2 separate regions of the Homo sapiens genome follow, and region 1 is linked to region 2. The links come from fine-mapping of genetic effects on gene expression. A gene starts in region 2. The other region holds a variant in brackets. All regions are shown on one strand. Distances are between the middles of the regions.

Region 1 (3,008 bases), 110 kb after region 2:
CACTTGGAGTTTTAAAATCAGCATTCCCAACTTGAGACTTGTTAAAGGCACCCAGGAATCCTCATGCCTTTGTCCTATCTAGTGCTATAAGACTTATGAAGTAGAACACAGTGAGGTTGATATTAAAGAAGATGATTGCCTGGTAGGCCCAATGGCCACTCAGAGATGAGACCAGGCCTTTGGCAGCAAGGCAATCCTGAGAGGCCATAGCTCTGGTTTATCACCCATTTCTTCATTTAATAAGAAGTATTGCTCTATTATACTCTGCCTGTGTCCAAAGGAAGACACCATGCCTATCAAAGAACTGGTGTCATTAAGTCTGGAGACTCTTACACAGAATGAGGCCAAGGGGAAGGGCAGGGTGAGTTGCATGAGGCTCTCTCAGCCTGATTTCAGGTTGATTTCCATGGTCTCCACTGGAAACCATGTATCTTTGGATTCAGAAATCTTGGGTTCAAGTCTTGCCTCTATACTGGATAGCTATGAGACTCTGTTATATTCTCTAAGCCTAGCTTATCCAACCCATGGCCCAGGACGGCTTTGAATGCAGCCCGACCCAAATTCATAAATTTTCTTAAAACGTTGATTTTTTTTTGCGATTTTTTTTTTTTTTAGCTCATCAGCTGTTGTTAGTGTATTTTATTTTTATCTGTGGCCCACGACAATTTTTCTTCCAGTATGGCCCAGGGAAGCCAAAAGATGGTACACTCCTTCTCTAAGCCTTAGTTTCCACGCCTGAAAAGTGCTGGGACTGAGGAGCTACCTCACAGAGTTCTTAGTGTTAAGTGAGGTAATGAATGCGAAGTCTCCAGCGCTTAAGAAGCAGGTCCTCGGTTACCAAGAGCCCCCTTTCCTCCTCTTGCCATCAGCAAAGAGACTTGAATCGGCCTTTTCTCTAAGCCCCGTTAGAACTGAAAGCCTGGCTCCTGACTGCCCATAGCACTGTGGCCCACACTCCTCACAAGCCCAAGCCAAGGATGCCCCACTCCTTTCATATCAGCCACCTCATTTTATCCCTGATTTCATCCTCCTCCTGAATGGGATGGCACCTTTCCTCCCAGTTCAAAACCCTGCCCCTCCTCTCAGGCCCATCTCACAGCCATCATTTCCTCATCCTCCACAAACCGCTGGTCCTTTTATTCAACACACATTTTATCAAATGCCTTTCTCTGCAAGGAACTTGGTGGTGTTTCTCTCTCTTCTCAGTCTCCAAAGCCCTTTGTCAGCAACTTCTCCTATTGCACCCAATTGATTCTGTTTTATTTCTCAGTCACGGGTGTCCTTGGATCTCTTCTCCACTAGATGGTAAACTTCATTGAAATCTCATTTTTACAGAGCTCTACCTGTTGTAGTGTTTCCCACAGCATCCAGGCCCTTCCCTGGCTCCATGGTGTGTTTCATCTTCATCTCTGTGCCTTTGAGTTGTCTGCCAGATCACAGAGCAAGCACTCA[A/G]TAGATATTTGGTGACCTAAAGAAAGGAATAAAGAGGTAGCAGCAAATGCAGAGAAGTGGCATCTTCCCTATTTCTGACTTGAAAGGTGTCTTTTTATCCCTGTTTAGGTTGTATGCTAGTAGACATGGAAATGTTCAGAATTTATGTATTCCCTTGAACTCAAGGAGCACTTTGTGCTGTTTTTCTCTTGGGTCTCATATAGTCAGAGGAACTGAAGTCTCCGGAAGGGTCTTGGTCACCCTGAGAAGCACCCACTTATGCAAACCTTGCACTTGCACAGTTCCTTTCCCCTGGGGTCAGCCTCCATCCCATGCTGACTTCCAAGCTCAGATCTACTCTGCAGACTCTGCAGGGCCTAGGCCTCACATCTAGTTGCCTTTTAGACATCTTCTCTTCCGTGTCCACACACATCAGAAATTTACCTTGCCTGAATCTGACCTTGGCTTCCTCCTGCCTGCAGCCTTGCTGTTCTCTGACTCCATAAACGGTACCAACGTCATACAGGTGCCCTGGGCAGGGGTCCTTTTACTCCCGCCCTCAGGTCCAGTCATCAGGTCTCTGGCCTCTGCTCACTTCCTTCTATCTCCTTTGCCGCTACTCCTGGCCCTGCTTTCTCCTGCTTGGACTCTTCCAACACCCCCTTTGCTCTCCCCAATCCTTTCTCCCTTGCAACCAGAAGGTGAAACTGCAGCTTGGCCATTTCCCTGATGAAAACCATCAGGATAATGTCTAGAAATCTAAGAGAGGCTTAGAAGATTCTTCCCAAACCACTCCTGCCCACCCCTCCTTCCTGTCTCACATCACTTTCCTCTAGCACTGAAAGCTTCAGTCTACCTTGGCTCTCAGCCCTGCCCTACTGTGGCCTCTTGCTTTGGGGCCTTTGCAGGTACTGTTCCCCCTTAGCTGTCCAACACTCACCCCTGGTTCAACTTAGCGTCCTTCTTCAGAAAGTCTTCCCTATCATCCTCCCCAAAAGTCTGAATTGGTTGCTCCTCTTTGCATCCCCATAGACCCCAGGCATACCCCAATTGTAGCACTTACTAGAATTGCCCATTCTAGTTTTGACTTATTTTGTCATCATCTTGGTAAGGGTTGTGCATCTGGTCTCCCTCACCTACTCCAGCACCTTGCAGAAAGCCTTGTGCCTATTATTTGCTATATAAATGAAAGAATGACAATCTCTGGCTCAGGCTCTATTCAAGTCAGAATGAAAGTCTTCAGAATTTGGTACAACCTTGTTGGGTATCTAGATCCTATTATACACATGTTCTCTGTATTCTTGCTGGCCTCTCATATCATGCCAATGAGAAAAATATAGAGAACGTGCAGGTCCTGCACATGGGTTGTCCCTCAAGAAGATTCTCAATCAATGTTTACATGAGATGTGGGTCACTGCCCTGGTCCTCCATCAGCAGCTCAGATTTCAGGACCCTGGGCTAGATAAGACAGCCCAATGTGCAGATGGCTTAGTGGAAGCCCTGAATGAATAAAAGCTCTGGTAAGTTTTTAAAAAGCAAAGGCACTGTGGGCTGGAGGGGCTTGGAAGACTCCTAGA
Region 2 (2,709 bases):
TGCAGATACGGTGACCTCTGTGGAGCAGAGTGGTGAAGTGACCTGCTCAGGTGTCTCAAGGTTAGAATTTGGTGCAGCCTGACTTCAGCCTGGTCTGAAGGCCTACCAGGCTGGATTTCAATGAGAATTGTTTCTTTCTCTTTTTCTTTTCTCTCTTTCTTTCTCTTCTTTCTTTCCTTCTCTTCTTTCTCTCTCTTTCTTTTTCTTTCTTCCTTTCTCTCTCTCTCTCTCCCCCCGTCTCTCTCTTTCATTCTTTTTTTTTTTTTTTTGAGACAGAGTCTCACTCTGTCACCCAGTCTGGAGTGCGGCGGCAGGATCATAGCTCACTGTAGCCTCAATCTCCCAGGCTCAAGCAATCCTCCCACCTCAGCCTCCTGAGTAGCTGGGACAAAAGGTGGATGCCACCACACCCATCTATTTTTTTTTTTTTTTAATTTTTAGTAGAGATGAAGTTTCGTTGAGTTGCCCAGGATGGTCTCCAATTCCTGAGCTCAAGCAATCCTCTCTCCTCGGCCTCCCAAAGTTTTGGTATTACAGGTGTGAGCCACCGCTGGGCAGATAATTGCTTCTTTAAAGAGCCCGACACGGCAGATAAGCCTTGAAGAGAAAGGTACCTGTCCTCTCAGTGCTTCCTGCCACCTATTTGTCCGTTAGGCAATTCTTCCAGAATGAAGTTGAGGCAGGCCCCTGTAAAAGAGGTGGCAGCTTCAGGGACTCTTCTCCAGGGAACTGGAAGGGAGCGGAAGAACTTATTCTTAAGCGAAGGAGCCCTATCAGCGACCAAGCTCAATTGGTGGAAGGCCCCTTCCCCTAGCCCCAGTTGCATCTTCTGTCACTTCACCCTGCTCCTTCTCCTCAGAGCACTTTGGGCTGTAACTGGACGTTTGCTAGGTTAATTTACACCTGTTTCTCCTGGCAGGTGATAAAACTCCAAGGGGGCAGGACCCTGTCTTTTGTACACCAGTGCACACCCAAGTCCTGGCACGGTACTTGGAACAGGATAGGTAATCAATAAAGACTGGGTTGATAAAAGAGCACTTGGAAATCATGTGGGGCCAATAAGATCCGAACGCGGCCGAAGCTCTCGTCCTCGGGTTGCTGCAGGTGTGGTTCCCGGTGATGGAGGCCGTGGAAGAAGCCTTCCCTCCCTTTCCCGCCCCCAGGGCAGGAAGCCTGGGGGCTGAGCGGTCCTCCGAAACCGAGAGGCAGGTCCTGGGTGCGCCGGCGGTACAGCGGAGAGCGTGGAGAGACCCTCGCCGCAGCCATTTCCTGCCCTTTGTGTGACAGCCGCTGCGGCGAAGGGGCGGGCGCTGGGTGGGGGCGGAGCCGCGGCGGGCGGAGCAGCGGGGCCGGGGCGGGGCCGAGCGCGGCGCAGCGGAGCGGGGCAGAGCATCCTGCGCCCCGGCGCGGGGCCCTGCGGTAGCCTCAGGCCCCTCCCCTGGACCCGCCGCAGAGCCAGGTAAGCGGCCCTCGCAGGCCTCGGGCCGGGCACGGGGACTAGGATGCCGCCGGGGACGGGGATGAGGCCGTGAGGATGCGCGAAGGGCCGCCCCCTCTCCCGGCCCGCGGGGGGCGCTCGGCGCTGTGCCCGGGCTAGCCCGAGGCCCGGCCTCAGGCCCCACGCGGCCCCTTTCCCCCTCGGACCCACCGTGCGTCCCGCGGCACGGACCCTCTGCCCGGGAGGCGCGGGCACATCGCGGAGCTCCGGCGCGGCGGCGGGGGAGCCGCAGCAGCAGGTGCGCGGCCTGGGCCGGAGCCGCCAGCCCGGGAGGAGGCGGTGCTAATCTCAGGGACCGGAGACACCTGCAGCGGCCGCGAGCCCGGCAGCGGCGACATCCTCGAGTCCAGGTACTGCAGAGCGCTGGCCCCTGCCTCTGCCGCCGTGACCACCGTCACCTCCCCCAGGGCCAGCGAGAGCCGCCTGGGCCCGCCTGGCAGCCGCCTCGGGCACACAGAACGTGTGATGGGTGGGGCGAGGGGCGCAGCGTCGATGTTTGGGGGCGGAGGGCTTTGATGAGAGAGGAGCAGGTCTGACCCGCTTGGAAGCTTTCTGGCCTACACTAGCATCGCTCACCAAGCTGGCTGCGGGCACGGTGGAAGTGGGGGAAGGGGATGAGTGGGCTGACTCCTGGGGGAAAAGGTGGTTTTTTTCTTGAGCTCTGAAGAACCAGGAAGATGCTTGCCTGTCTGTTGTGGCGTCTACTTTTCAGGTCAGCCCTACCCCTCACCCCAAAGAACAGCCCACCTATGTGCAAAAGAAGAGGAGGAGGTGCTCTCTGCTTGGGGATGGGGGCAGGTAGCATGTTCCACATAAGTATGGCCCTCTATATCCAGAACCCGGCTGGAAAGGACACTGACAGCCCAGGTGCCTCCCCAGCACAGGGAATCTGATTTTGACCTTTGCTTGCCTACTTTCCCCAGCACAGTGGAAACACTCACCAGGGCTGATGAGCCATCAGCTGTCCTTCCAGCTAGGCCAAGAATGGGACAAGGATCTTTTTCTGCTAGTTCCTGGGTGCCTGTGCCCTCAGCATGGGCAGGGAGACGGAGGCAGGCCTGCTGGCAGGAGGGGCAAATCAGGAGACTGTCGGTTCCTGTGTTCCCATTTCCTGCCTCCTGTCTGTGTCCCAGTTAGGGCAGTGGGTCTCACCTTACTCTTGGATACAGGCTGTGCCAGCAACCTGGGTCCCTGAGATCTTAGAGGGCAAA

Which allele goes with the higher level. Positions count from the first base shown, and alleles are read on the strand shown. Sizes are in standard deviations (SD) of each study's normalised expression.
In carriers of allele A in region 1, the expression in unexposed skin of the gene that starts at base 1,387 in region 2 tends to be lower than with G alone (small effect, 0.19 SD a copy in GTEx).

Evidence for each region. PIP is the estimated chance that this variant, and not a neighbour inherited with it, causes the effect.
Region 1: its variant is the best candidate, but not a certain one, in a credible set for the expression of CYFIP2 in unexposed skin (GTEx, PIP 0.53).

The regions. Positions count from the first base shown.
Region 1 is chr5:157,375,039-157,378,046 of GRCh38, forward strand. The region is part of intron 26 of CYFIP2 (cytoplasmic FMR1 interacting protein 2); the gene reads left to right. The region is part of intron 1 of NIPAL4-DT (NIPAL4 divergent transcript); the gene reads right to left. Among named protein-coding and RNA genes, the nearest start is that of FNDC9, 31 kb to the left of the region's middle. The variant A/G (reference allele first, on the strand shown) is at 1,453.
Region 2 is chr5:157,264,737-157,267,445 of GRCh38, forward strand. It overlaps CYFIP2 (cytoplasmic FMR1 interacting protein 2), which reads left to right and starts at 1,387. Exons shown (of 31, transcript NM_001037333.3): 1 at 1,387-1,459. RefSeq lists a silencer at 1,294-1,813 and an enhancer at 2,494-2,603.